Linked DNA regions of Homo sapiens. The protein of the gene in region 2 purifies or fractionates together with the protein of the main gene of each other region. This does not show direct contact. Each region holds a gene or a part of one and is shown on either strand. Other genes may lie near its edges.

Region 1 (7,425 bases), on a different chromosome or scaffold from region 2:
AAATTAGCCAGGCATGAGGCACATGCCTGTAGTCCCAGCTACTGGGAGGCTGAGGCCGGAGGATTGATTGAGCCCCGGAGGTCGAGGCTGCAGTAAGCTATGATCATGTCACTGCACTCCAGCCTGGGTGACTGATCAAGACTGTCAAAAAAAAAAAAAAAAAAAAGAGAGAGGGAGAGAAATGTAGGGGTGGGTTGCCCCTCCACACCTGTGGGTGTTTCTCGTAAGGTGGAACGAGAGACTTAAGAAAGAAAAAGACACAGAGACAATGTATAGAGAAAGAAATAAGGGGACCCGGGGAACCAGCGTTCAGCATTATGGAGGATCCCGCCAGCCTCTGAGTTCCCTTAGTATTTATTGATCATTCGTGGGTGTTTCTCCGAGAGGGGGATGTGTCAGGGTCACAAGACAATTGTCGGGAGAGGGTCAGCAGACAAACACGTGAACAAAGGTCTTTGCATCGTAGACAATGTAAAGGATTAAGTGCTGTGCTTTTAGATATGCATACACATAAACATCTCAATGCTTTACAAAGCAGTATTGCTGCCCGCAGTTCCCACCTCCAGCCCTAAGGCGGTTTTTCCCTATCTCAGTAGACGGAACATACAATCGGGTTTTATACCGAGACATTCCATTGCCCAGGGACAGGCAGGAGACAGATGCCTTCCTCTTGTCTCAACTGCAAGAGGCATGCCTTCCTCTTATACTAATCCTCCTCAGCACAGACCCTTTACGGGTGTCGGGCTGGGGTCTTTCCCTTCCCACGAGGCCATATTTCAGACTATCACATGGGGAGAAACCTTGGACAATACCTGGCTTTCCTAGGCAGAGGTCCCTGCGGCCTTCCGCAGTTTTTGTGTCCCTGGGTACTTGAGATTAGGGAGTGGTGATGACTCTCAAGGAGCGTGCTGCCTTCAAGCATCTGTTTAACAAAGCACATCTTGCACCGACCTTAATCCATTTAACTCTGAGTTGACACAGCACATGTTTCAGAGAGCACGGGGTTGGGGGTAAGGTTATAGATTAACAGAATCTCAAGGCAGAAGAATTTTTCTTAGTACAGAACAAAATGGAGTCTCCTATGTCTACTTCTTTCTACACAGACACAGTAACAATCTGATCTCTCTTGCTTTTCCCCACAGAGAAAGAAGAAAGGAAGAAAGAATAAAGAAAGAAAGAAGAAAATTTTAAGTTTATACCTTTTAAAAAAGGAAACTTAAAAATCAGTAAGTTTTAATTTTTAATAAGATAAATAATTTATTCTATCAAACATCACCAATGTCAGATCATTTCAACATTATTTCTAACTTTTCAAAGTACATAGCATAAACCATAAAAGTTGTCTAACTGAAATTAAATCTTCGTGAGAGATAGTTTTAATAGACTGGGTTTTTAGCAGTGAAGTTAAAGAATGATAGTTTAGTATACAGAAAGAAACAGTTATGGTGACACTTAGTTCTTCATGATGCACTGTAAGCACAAATTGGACATCACATGATAAGTAAAAAGGATGGTCCTTCTGGCAAATAAAAATTAAATAGGTCCTCACAGTGATATGCAGTCTCCAAACATGATCTGTCTAATTTCTCTCTCTCACCCAAAGTAAAAAGTTAAGTTGAAAGATTAAAACCTGCCTTCTTGTTACTATTTCACAAATACACCCAGATAGTACCAGATTAGTGACTAAAATCCAGATATTTTCCTTTTAGATAAATTAAGCCATATACATTGTAAAATACTTATTTTTTAAGAGAATCAATAAAGCTATATTTATTTTCAGTAGAAAATGTGGCTCATAGACACTTTATTTCTCTGAAATTGCCTCTCAAGAAAAAACTTGATCCTCACTATTGATCTAAGAGAAATCTGCATGAAGCAATGCTGTAGTTTATGCTTTTTTTTTTTTTTTTTTTTTTCTCAAAGGTGGTGGGTGACCTCTGGAGGCAACTGGAAAAAATATACTGCTGCTTTCAAGAGTGAAGTGGGGAATGAAGAATCAGAAAGTAGATCTTTCCATTTAGAGAAGGCTTTTTCTTTTTTTTTTTTTTACATTTAATCAGGGTGAATTAAAATATTTAATTTAAAAATGGCTTTACTGAACCTCAATTCAGTTAGGTAATTAATCAATTCAGTTAGGTAATAGCTACTAAGTATGTAATACAATGTTAGGGGAGAGACATATAACATCCATAGTTTCAATCTCATTGAGTTTATAATCTACTAAGGAACTGAAGATAAGTGCTAAAAGAACTGTAACACGAGGTAAAACCTGTGACAAGATTTAGGAGCAGCACAACTATATAGTTGTGAAACTAAACCAGCCTCAAGGCTGAAAGGCAGGTGAGAAAAGACTACCTACCAAAGTAGGTTTTGTTTGTTTGTTTGTTTGTTTGTTTGTTTTAACATGGATTCTCCAAAGATAGGTAGAAAAGTCCTGGTTTGGCGTCATTAGTCTACTTCAGCCCCTCTCTCACTGATTACGACTGAAAGACTCATGACAAAATACAAATGGCAACTACCTGCCGCCTCTGAAAAGTAAATAAAGAATTGAGGTAGGGAGTCAAAACTTAGAAACCTGCAAGGGGATGAATTTCCTGGCTTTTTTCTTCTTTTCTTGTGGTTTGTCCTGAGGAGAGACCCCAGCTGGGAACTGTTGGGTGGCATGGGTAGCTAAAACTCGAATAGAAATCTCATCTTTCTGTGCTGAAAGGAAATAACGGTTAGCCCAGAACTCTATTTTCAGTGAAAATATTTTCAGGAATCAAAGTGAAATAAAGACATTCTCATATGAAGGAATGCCAGCTGACCTGCTCTAAAATAAATGCTTGGCGGGCCGGGCGCGGTGGCCCACGCCTGTAATCCCAGCACTTTGGGAGGCCGAGGCGGTCGGATCATGAGGTCAGGAGTTCGAGACCAGCCTGACCAACATGGTGAAACCCCGTCTCTACTAAATAAAAAAATTAGCCGTGCGTGGTGGCACGCGCCTGTAATCCCGGCTACTCAGGAGGCTGACGCAGGAGAATCGCTTGAACCTAGGAGGCAGAGGTTGCAGTGAGCCGAGATCGCACCATTGCACTCCAGCCTGGGCGACAGAGCGAGATTCCGTCTCAAATAAATAAATAAATAAATAAATAAATAAATAAATAAATAAATAAAAAAGAAATGCTTGGCGGGGCATGGTGGCTCATACCTGTAATCTCAGCACTTTGGAAGGCCAAAGGCAGGCGAATCACTTGAGGTCAGGAGTTCGAGACCAGCCTGGCCGACATGGTGAAAACTCGTCTCTACCAAAAAGCGCCACAACACTCCAGCCCGGGCGACATAGGCTCTGTCTCAAAAAAGAAAACAAACAAACAAAAAAAAAAGTGGGGGTGCGGGTGGGGGGAAGACTTAATGACTAAACGAATAAGTCTGGAGAGACGGGTTGCAAGGGATGATGAGACTAAGGTTTGTAGTCTGGGAGCCTAAGTGGATGAAAGTTGGAAGAATCAGGTGGAAAAGAACATTTCAAATAGACCACAAAGAAAAGTATATAACATTTTGAGGCTGTGGTACGCTTTGTTAAAGAGCAAAAGGAAAACAATTCCTCAAATCAGGGGGGAGGGATAGCATTAGGAGATATACCTAATGTTAAATGACGAGTTAATGGGTGCAGCACACCAACATGGCACATGTATACATATGTAACTAACCTGCACGTTGTGCACATGTACCCTAAAACTTAAAGTATATAAAAAAAATTCCTCAAATCGATGCCACGCTCCACTTCTTTACAACGATGGAATTATTTCAGGAATTGGAATTATTTCAGGAATTGTGTTTGAAACCACAGCTTTGGATCCCGATTTCTTTCTTGAGCTACTGTTACACTGTTTATATACGGCCACTAATTCGATGACTGAGCTTGGGCAGATTGTTAATTATTTTCTATGACTTAATCTTTCTATCTGTACAACGGGGATAACGTGGAATTTGGAGTGTTGTGAGGGTTGAGATAATATACGTGATAACTTACACAATGACGTTCAACAAATACTTGTGGAGTGAAAGATGCGCGATTCATTGACAGATCTCAGGGATTTCAGAAAGCTGTATAAGGACCAGCTCTTCAGGCTCCCTTCGCTCCCCAGGAGACCGGGGAGCCGGCGCGAGGCGCTACAGTGTAATTCTTGGCCCCTTTTCCTCATAATGGTTTGGCCGCATTTTTACCTCTTGATTTCCCTGGTCCCAGGCTGCAACTTCAGCTCGCTCCGCCATGGGGCGCACGTCCGCCAGCCTCTGTGAGCTCAGCTAAGTATGATGCCTAGGCTAGAGAGCTACGTCCGGTCTCCTAGGCAACCATATCAACTTCCGGCTTGAGGCACGATAGCGGTTGGCGAGAGGCCACATTTCCGCCACGTGACCCGCGCATGCGCCTGCTTGCTGGAGAGCGAGCGTCTTTTGCCACGAACACCTGCGGCGTGCCGAAGTTCCTCTTCTCTGCCCCGGTTCCGGGCGGTCCGCTGGGAGGTGGCGCCCGGAGGGACACCCGTGCCTGGGGTCGGGGCCAGTGCTCTTCTCGGAGCTCCAGAAGTTCTGCTGAGAAGCGCGGCGGCAGCAAGACGACTTCTCCGGAGCCGCCGAGCTGGAGTTAGAGGTGGAGCTCCGTGGGGCCGGGCCCCCGGCTGCGGGGCAGCGGCTCCTGCAGGCGGAGGCCCCGGCGGAGAATGAGCCGGAGCCGGAGGTGGTGGTGGTCTCCTGGCAGAGCGGTGGGACCGGGAGCAAGCTGCGGTGGTTCACCACCTTGATGCTGTGTGCCTCCTTCCTGGGGCTGGTGAGAGCCGGGGCTGCAACACTCCCAGGCCGGGGCGTTCGAGTCTTGCCTTCGCCACTTGCAAACTGACCTTGGGCGCGTTACCTAATCTGACTGGGCCTCAGTTTCATCATCTAGAAAATGGGCACAATTCTAATCTTGGAGGAAATAGATTTTCTGAATACGTCTTTCAGCTCCAGCAAGCTTTTTTTTTTTTTTTTTTTGACGGAGTCTCGCTCTGTTGCCCAGGCTGGAGTGCAGTGGTGCGATCTCGGCTCACTGCAACCTCTGCCCCCAGGGTTCAAGCGATTCTCCTGCGTCAGCCTCCCGAGTAGCTGGGATTACAGGCGCCTGCCACTAAGCCCGGCTAATTTTTGTATTTTTAGTAGAGACGGGGCTTCGCCATGTTGGCCAGGCTGGTTTCAAACTCCTGACCTCAGGTGATCCGCCCACCTCGGCCTCCCAAAGTATTGGGATTACCGGCGTGAGCCACGGCGCCCGGCCCGGCAAGCCTTCCTACGTCTCCTTCGTCGGATGGGAAGGTTGCAAGAGGGGTTCACCAGGTCTTTGGCCGCTGCTCTCCGCACCCACCCACTCAACCCCCAAATTATTACACAGAAAAACTACTTTTCTGGAATTTCTTCCTGGTGATCTGACCAAATTCAGCCAACCGCTTAATTTTGCAGATAAGGAAATAGGCCCGGAGGGGAAAGTGACTTTCTGGATCACACAGCTGGTTAAGTGATAGAGCCAGAAATATGTCTTTTACTCTGCCCACCATCCTATTTATTAATAAAACCAACCTTTAGATTCTTAAATGTTTTTCTTGGAGCAAAGGGCAAGCCTAGAGGCGCCTTTTGCCAAACCCCTGGGTCGCCACTCAATTCACTTTTCGGAAACCTCCTCCTTATCACTTGATAATTATGATCCTGGGGGAGTTGAGAGGATGAGTCCTCCCAAGAGTCATGTGTGGTCACTTACCATCTCAGGGACTCTGAGCCACAGTTGTTTCTTAGAGTATTTTGATTGGGGGCGGTGGGGAGGGGTGAAGAAAGAAATCACTTCAGACTTTTGGTGAGTCGTCACTGACTTGTCCGGTCCTGTTGTAAATCCTTTGAAGACATGAACTAATTTGATTAGATTCTGTGCTCAGGCTTCTCTCGAAGTACGAGGTGCTTGCTGTGCACCTGGGCCCATAGTGGTCCGTGGTCTTGGACTGTTACGAGTTGGGCAGGGGGCGCACCCCATGCATTTAGAGCAGAGCAGGGCAATTAGAATCAGTTATTCTGGAAATGTAGACTGATTGGAAACATTTTTTTCTTTAAATGTCCAATGAATTTCCTCTGAAAGTCAATTGTAATCCTTACCTCTTGCTGACACTGCATTGAGTAAAGTTTTATTGTTAAAGTCATTCTGTACTTGGGCGTGTAATATTTTTTAAGCAACCTTTACTGACTAATTCTGATGGCGTGGAAGAAAAGTGTAGATTTAGAAACATTTAAATTGTTTATCTCCTGTATGTTTTATATGTATAGTTCAGGGGAAGGACTCCATGTGCATCCAGAAATATTGCTGTTTAACAACATAAAAAACAGGAATCATATTTTGATGTTTTGATCAAGGTTTTGACGTTTTCCAGTGGCTCAGTCAGAACTCACTACAGTCTCGACCTCAGGGCTTAAGCGATCCTTCCATCTCAGCCTCCCTAGTAACTGGGACTACAGGCATGCGCCACCACGCCTGGCTGATTTTTTTCATTTTTATTTTTGTAGAGATGGGGTTGCCTAGGTTGATCTCAAAACCCTGAGCTCAAGCAGTCCTACCATCTCTCCCTTCCAGATTGCTGGGATTACAGGTGTAAGCAACCACACCTGACTTAATTTAATTAATTAATTTATTCTTTCTGAGACAGAGTCTCGCTCTGTCGCCCAGGCTGGAGTGCAATGGTGCAGTCTCGGCTCACTGCAACCTCCGCATCCCGTGTTCAAGCGATTCTCCTGCCTCAGCCTCCCGAGTAGCTGGGACTACAGGCGCCCACCACCATGCCCAGCTAATTTTTGTATTTTTAGTAGAGATGGGGTTTCACTGTGTTGGCCACGCTGGTCTCAAACTCCTGACCTCGTGATCCGCCTGCTTCGGCCTCCCAAAGTGCTGAGATTACAGGCGTGAGCTACTGTGCCCGGCCAATTTAAATTTTTAATACCCAAATTCTTATTTGTGCATGTAATATATTTCAAAATGTACGAAACCATTTCAAAAATAGTTTTAATATTACATTTTATTAATACAGAATAGTCTTTTAAAGGTATTGTTCAGAAAGGAAACAGGATTGCAACAAAAAAATAATTTTTTAAAAACTGAGAGGTGTCAAAACAAAAAAAAAATAAGAGTTTTAGTCAAAACTAAAAAAACAGTAGTCTAATTCCCTACATTACATTGTAAATCCCAGACCCTCCGCCCCCCTTTTTTTTTATAGTGGAAGAAACTACCACATAGTTAGACATTATTTTAATGATTATAAGTAAAAACTTTTGTCTTTTTAAATTTTAGGGATTGAGTGTTGCTATAGTGGGACCCACGTTTCAAGATTTGGCAACAAACGTGAACCGAAATATCAGTAGTCTGTCTTTCAT
Region 2 (6,682 bases):
CATGGTAGTATGGCCACCTGTCACTACCCTTCAGGTTTGGCGGCGGCCCTCTGGGGCAGGGAACTTTCTGAATATGTCTTAAGGCCCCTACTGGCCTTTTTAGTCAAGCCAGGACTGCATGCGGCCCACCTGGCTGTGTGGCCTTGGCAACGGACACTCTCAGGCCTTGGTACCTAAGTCGGAAGTCACTTTCTCCTTCCGCGCTAGAGAGGCCGGCCACCCCTCCTGCTCCAGGTGTGGAAGAGCACCTTACAACAGCTCCCTTAGAAGCCTGCCCAGCTGCCCGAGACCCAAGGCTGCAGAGTACTGGAAGGGCGGGGACACACGGGCCCCACATGTATGCTGCCTAGTCCAGGTGGGAGAAATGAAGCTCAGAGCGTGGGGCTCCAGGACGGCCCGGAAAGCTGAGTCAGGGCCCTGACTCAGGTTGAGGACTGAGGTTAGGACCACCATCACCTTGGCACACCTTAGCCCAGGCCTCTGCCCCTGGGAGAGAATACCCATCAGTTCTCGGTATTTTTTTTCTTTCTACATTTTATTATTTCAAACCAGGTGAACAATTCCATAAAACATGTGAAAAAAGCAAGGAAGTGTTCAACGCTGAAGGCCCCGGGCCTGGGACAAGGGCATGAGGGGCGTGGCCCCCCAGCAGGCAGCGGCGGTTCCTAGGTTAGCGCTAGGGAGCTACATTTTAGGTTAATAGAGCCTGGGGCCAGGGCCGCTGGGGCAGGGCCCTCAGTGACGTTGGCAGTTGTCTGGAACAGCCCTTGGAACCCAATTCTGTGGAGGGCAGGGCAGGGGTGCCGCTCGCACGGGGGCGGCCAGCAGAGGGACGGGTGTAAACACGCAGACACACTCAAGGCACGGAGTCACTTGGAAGGGGGGCTGGGGGGGGGCTTGCTGGTCAGGATCTGACAGTTTTAAATAGTTTTTCTCTAAAAAGTTTTCTAGATTTGCAGTTTTTTTTTTTTCCTTTACTTTCATTTTTTTAAAAAGCTACGAGAATGAGCAGGTGGACTGTGGTTTCCAGGAATGGTGGCGTCTCACGCTTCTTGTGCTTTTTCCTTTGGGGCCTCCGAGCGGCTGGGGTTGGGGGACTGGGCAGGAGGCTCCCTGTAAACATTTGGACTTGGGCTGGGGCAGGGGCTGGTGTTGGGCAAAGCTGGGGGTCCAGGCTGGAGAAGCAGGGGCCCCTCCAGACGCAGCCTTGGGAGACTCAGCATGTGCCCCCCTCCCCTCATCACAGAACAAGACAATGGTTAAAAACCAGAACAGATGCCCAGAAGGGGGTACCATGGCCATTACCAGCATCTCAGACAAGGGCAGGCTTCAAACAGGGAGGCCTGTGGCAACCCCTCCCCTACGTCTGGAGCTGAGGGGACAGGGGGAGCTGAGAACAAAGAGAGGAAAGAGGAGAAAAGCGGCGGGGGAACAGGCGGGGAGCGTGATCTTCTTGCCCCCATCTTCCTCAGGGGTTGGGGGGTACAAAGTCGGCGGTGGCCCTGGAGGTGGGGGAAAGCAGAGCATGGATCGGGAAGCAGCCAGGGCGTGCCTCTCTCCCGCCTCCCTAGACAATGACCCTTCTCTATTTTTCCTACCCATTTGTTACCAGGGACACAGTTGCCGCCCAGGAGCCAGTTTCTGTTGCTGGGTTACGTGGGGGAGGGGAGTCTGTGGCACTGGGAGAGTCATCCCCACCTCCACCAGGGCCAGTGGGGCCAGCCTAAGCCCGGGACGCTCAGACAAGTCAGAGGGCAAGAGCTGGAGGTGCACATGGAGCTGGTGGTAGTGGGCAGCAGGGCTGGGCTCCGCTGGCATGCAGCTTCCGGCAGGCTGGGCCAATGGCCTGGTGGGTGAGGAGGTGAGATTTCTCCAGGGAACATCAGGATGGCCTCTGGTTCTGTCCCAGGGCAAGGCCAGGCCCTTCTGTCTGGACCACTGGGCCAGGCCTGCTTGTATGACCTCCTCCATGCCCTGCACCTCACTCACTTGACCTCCTGATTCACACCCTGGGCCTTCTCCTCCCTTGTCCCCTGGTCACCTATTGCCCCTCCCCCTCCAGGTTCACCCCCCTACCCACCCCCAGAACCCCCTGCTGGGGCTCCAGGCCCGCTTAGTTCTTCCCCAGCACCCTGCCACAGCCCCTCTGGCTCACCATCCCGCCAGGCCCCGCTGCCCCTCAGAAGAGGCCGCAGTCCTTCAGGTTGTTCTTGATGATGACATCGGTGACGGCGTCAAACACGAACTGCACGTTCTTGGTGTCGGTGGCGCACGTGAAGTGCGTGTAGATCTCCTTGGTGTCTTTGCGCTTATTCAGGTCCTCAAACTTACTCTGGATGTAGCTGGCTGCCTCATCATATTTGTTGGCCCCTGGGGGAGAGAAAATGAAGACTTGTGCTGCATGTGTGGCAGGCAGGCCGCATCCTACGTGTGCAGCAAGGGTCTGTGCGTGTGGACGGCCAGGCATACAACCTGTGCATGCATGTGCATAATATGACAATGTTTGTGGCTGCCCATACATGCCAGATGTGCAAAGGGGTACCCCACTGTGTGAAGGAGGATGCCCATGTACACATGTTCAGGGGTACATGCTTGAGTGTGTTAAGGGCTTCATGTGTGCACACACAACTATACAAGCCTAAGTGAGGCACCAGCCCCTGCCAGTGTTCCAAGGTTACACTTCTGTCCAGTGGGGGGCGCCTGAGGGCCACCTGGTCACCATAGGCTACTTGGGACAAGAAGCAACCCTCTGGAGGCCCTATCCCCACAGTCCCCACACCTGTGTACTCAGGGAAGCAGATGGTCAGGGGACTGTGTGTGATCTTCTCCTCAAACAGGTCCTTCTTGTTGAGGAAGAGGATGATGGACGTGTCTGTGAACCACTTGTTGTTGCAGATGCTATCGAATAGCTTCATGCTCTCATGCATGCGGTTCTGGGGGTAGAATAGCAAGGTCAACGCTAGCCACCACTCCCCAAGCCCGCTGCCCCCACCCGCAGCATTCTCTCATCCTCTCACCATCTCCTCGTCCTCAGCTAGCACCAAGTCATAGGCGCTCAAGGCTACGCAGAAGATGATGGCTGTGACGCCCTCAAAGCAGTGGATCCACTTCTTCCGCTCAGACCGCTGACCACCCACATCAAACATCCTGCAGATATAGATCACCTTAGTTCCAGGAAGGGAGCCTGGGGGAGGCTTTCTACCCCATTTCTCAGGTTGGCTGACTGAGGACAGAGGCCTGCCCAGAGTAGGGCAGCTACCTTCTGGAATCATCCACACTTGCCCACTTCACCCCTGGTTCTGGGCCAGGAGCTTGGACAGCAGGCAGGCTGCAGCCACATCAGGCAGGAGCAGCAGAGGCTGTGAGCAGCTGGCAGAGGTGGCGTGGATCCTGACTGCTGGTTCACTAGGTGGTGAGGATGTGCTTGCCCAGAACACATGAGCCTTGTAAAACCTCAGTGGGGCTGGGGGATCCTGGACCAGCCCCTGCCTCTGCTACCCCAGAGGCTGGCAGGTCCTGCCCCTCCCACCTGTCCACATGCTCGCTCACTTGAAGTGTAGGTCCTTGAAGGTGAAGTGTGTCTCCACGATCCCCGTGGTCTTTACGCGGGTCCGTAGCACATCTTGCTGTGTGGGGATGTAGTCACTCTGTGCAATACGCTCCAGGTCGTTCAGGTAGCTGGGGATGGGGGGTGGGAGGGTCAGTGGGGGCCAGCATGGGGCTTCCTTAGCTGGACCCTGGGCCAGCTGCAAGAGGCCCCTTCCCTCCCATGCCATTTCTCAAGCACAGCCCTTGCTTTTTTTTTTTTTTTTTTTTTTTTTTTTTGAGACAGAGTGTTACTCTGTTGCCAGGCTGGAGTGCAGTGGCATGATCTTGGCTCACTGCAACCTCTGCCTGCCAGGTTCAAGCGATTCTCCTGCCTCAGCCTCCTGAGTAGCTGGGACTACAGGCGCCTGCCGCCCAGCTAATTTTTGTATTTTTAGTAGAGACGGGGTTTCACCATGTTGGCCAGGATGGTCTTGACCTCTCAACCTCAGGTGATCCGCCCACCTCGGCCTCCCAGAGTGCTGGGATTACAGGCGTGAGCCACTGCGCCTGGCCTAGGCACAGCCCTTGTTTCTTTAACCCCTGCCTGCATTACCTCATTGCTCAAATGAAGAAACCTGAACTCAGAGCCCCCGGCCTCCCACCTGTAGAATGGGAATGGGAGGAGGTGCAGCTCTGTGGACAGCTAGCCAGCCAAGCTCCAGCACCCAGGGTCTGAGCCAGACCTGCCTCGGACAGGATCCAGGATGTTGGAGCTATAGGCAAAGAGGGTGGGAGGAGGCAAATTAGTCCTTCGGTGAAGGATTCAGGATGCTAATGGGCGCAATTACGGCATTAGCCGCAGAGCAGCCGGGTGCGGTCCCTCGATGTGGTGCTGGACAGGTTGGGGCCTGCCAGGTCCAGTGGGCTCTTTGCCCAGCGCCCAATGAAATCTGGGTTCCTCAGGGGGAGGGCACAGACACCTGCTTGGCAGGGGTCCCAGGGGCTCCTCATTACCAGTTCCCTTAATTAGTATCAAGGCTACCCCTGCAGGGCCTGCCTCTGCTGCCTGCCTCAATATCCCTGCCATGCCCTGGAGGCTGGTCCCAGGCCTCCAGGCTGCTGCCCAGAGCTGACTTTTCATTCCTGGGGCAAGGCTGCTGGGGCTGGCCCTTGGCTCCCACCAGCACCCAGGCCAAACCAGGCCAGAGGGAAATGATCTCAGAGTAGCAGGGACAAAACAGAAAAACAGGAAGGGCCATGGGGAAGGATGACGCATGTGCTGTGACCCGCATACCATGCCCCGCCCCCTACTGCCAGAGTCCTCAATGTGGAGGTACCATGGTGCATTCCACACCAGCCTCTCCCTTTTCCCCAACAGGTGGGTTCGCCCCAGGGACCCCCTGACTCGCTGCACACTTGGAGGGTTGCTGCGAAGAGGGGCTGAAGGAGCCCTGCTTCCTGTGGTGTTCCAATCCGCAACCCATTCCCAGGGGGAGCTATCAAGGCTTAAACCTGACTGGGAGAACAGGGCCTGTATTCACTCCCAAAACTGTGCTGGGCACACAGTGGGTGCCTAATGTCTGGAGAATAGAGAAAGAGGATGATGGAGAAGCAGGAGGTGGCCTGGAGGTGGCTCTATTCCTGCTTCCTTTGAGTATCATGGGCACCAAGGTCCCTGCTGCTCTGACCCCAAGCTCGCTGGTGGCTGGGCCAGAGATCTCAGGGAGGGGCAGTGGTGAGGCCTGGGGGCCCCCACAGCATTTGGCTGTGACTCCACAGCTCCTGTAGGGGGTACATATTCACAAGAGCATTCAGGCCATGTAAGAAGGGTAGGAGGAGGCTGTTCATGTGGCTTGGACAGGGCTCAGGAATCACAGCCAGGCAAGACCCTCCTCCTCCTCCCACCCACCCTTGCTGAAATCCACCCTATGGGTAGGCTCAGGATTGGATGAACAATAGGAGCAAAAGGGTGTTCCAGTCAGAGGGGACTGGCTTAAGCAGAGATAGGGGAAGGCTAGAGTACAGGGACAGCAGCCTATCTGGTGACACCATCCAAAGCCTGTGGATGTCCCCTGCAGCCATCCTCAATGGCTATTAGCCTGTCTATCCTGTTCCCCGTGGGGTCCTCAGCACCCTGCACCAGTCCAAGTACATGACAGATACCACAGGGAAGGAGTTCAGAACTGTGGAAAGGGTGCAGGCTTGTCATGCCTCTGGGATTCCTGGGACCCCTTGTAATTCCTCAGCCTAGGGCCAGCGAGGGTCACAGCTGAGGTCCAGGGGCTCTGACCTACACACACACCTGTCACCTCCCAGATAACTTCCTCCCCTGTGGCCCCCTCCAGCCAGCCTCCACAGCCTATGTTCAAGCACAGCCAGCTCCCCACCACCCCGAGATGCTGCACATGCTATGCCCCTGCCTGGAATCCCCTCATCCACTCCTCCCCTGGCTGACTCTCCTTCAGAGCTCAGCAATCCTGTCTCTGGGCCAACTCCACCTCTACCTTTTCACTAACACCCTAAATTGTCACTGCATGGGGACTTTGCTCCACTCATCACTGTGTCCTTGAAGCCTGGCACAGAACAGGTGGCAGCAAATGTTCTGAGTCTTGCTCTGTCACCCAAGCTAGAGTGCAGTGGCGCAATCTCCGCTCACTGCAAGCTCCACCTCCCAGGTTCACGCCATTCTCCTGCCTCAGCCTCCTGAGTAGCTGGGACTACAGGCGCCCTCCACCACGCCCGGCTAATTTTTTGTATTTTTAGTAGAGACGGGGTTTCACCGTGTTAGCCAGGATGGTCTCGATCTCCTGATCTCACGACCCGCCTGTCTCAGCCTCCCAAAGTGCTGGGATTACAGGCGTGAGCCACCACGCCCGGCCGCAAATGTTCTTTAGAAGACTGTCAAGACAGATCAGACTCAACTGGCCTGGAAGAGATGTACTGTATAAGCCACCTGCCTGTCATTCCTCCTGGCCTTTCAGTAACGTGACACCCACCCACCCCCCAAACCAAAAAACAGGAAGGCCTTGGTTAACAGTCATCGGTTTCATAAGCAAAGACCAGCAGTGTCCTTCTGGGGGTTCTCAGGCCCTCCGGTCCAGCCTTTAGTCCTCCCCCAGCCCCTGCCCTGCCCTGCCCAGCCCCTCAGAGCACT

The links. The genes of interacting proteins can lie anywhere in the genome.
Region 1: the proteins of GNAI2 (region 2) and SLC60A2 purify together in Homo sapiens (affinity purification with mass spectrometry; 3 studies listed by BioGRID and IntAct, with this or other methods). This does not show direct contact.

What each region holds. Positions count from the first base shown.
Region 1 is NC_000006.12:111,254,915-111,262,339, forward strand, and holds the start of SLC60A2 (sodium-dependent glucose transporter 1), read left to right. Parts: upstream 1-4,424; 5' UTR 4,425-4,786; coding exon 4,787-4,813; intron 4,814-7,342; coding exon 7,343-7,425. UniProt on the Homo sapiens protein: May function as a sodium-dependent glucose transporter. Potential channels for urea in the inner medulla of kidney.
Region 2 is NC_000003.12:50,253,188-50,259,869, reverse strand, and holds the end of GNAI2 (guanine nucleotide-binding protein G(i) subunit alpha-2), read right to left. Parts: intron 3,679-6,682; coding exon 3,550-3,678; intron 3,148-3,549; coding exon 3,018-3,147; intron 2,934-3,017; coding exon 2,780-2,933; intron 2,371-2,779; coding exon 2,180-2,370; 3' UTR 2,156-2,179; intron 1,503-2,155; 3' UTR 508-1,502; downstream 1-507. UniProt on the Homo sapiens protein: Guanine nucleotide-binding proteins (G proteins) are involved as modulators or transducers in various transmembrane signaling systems.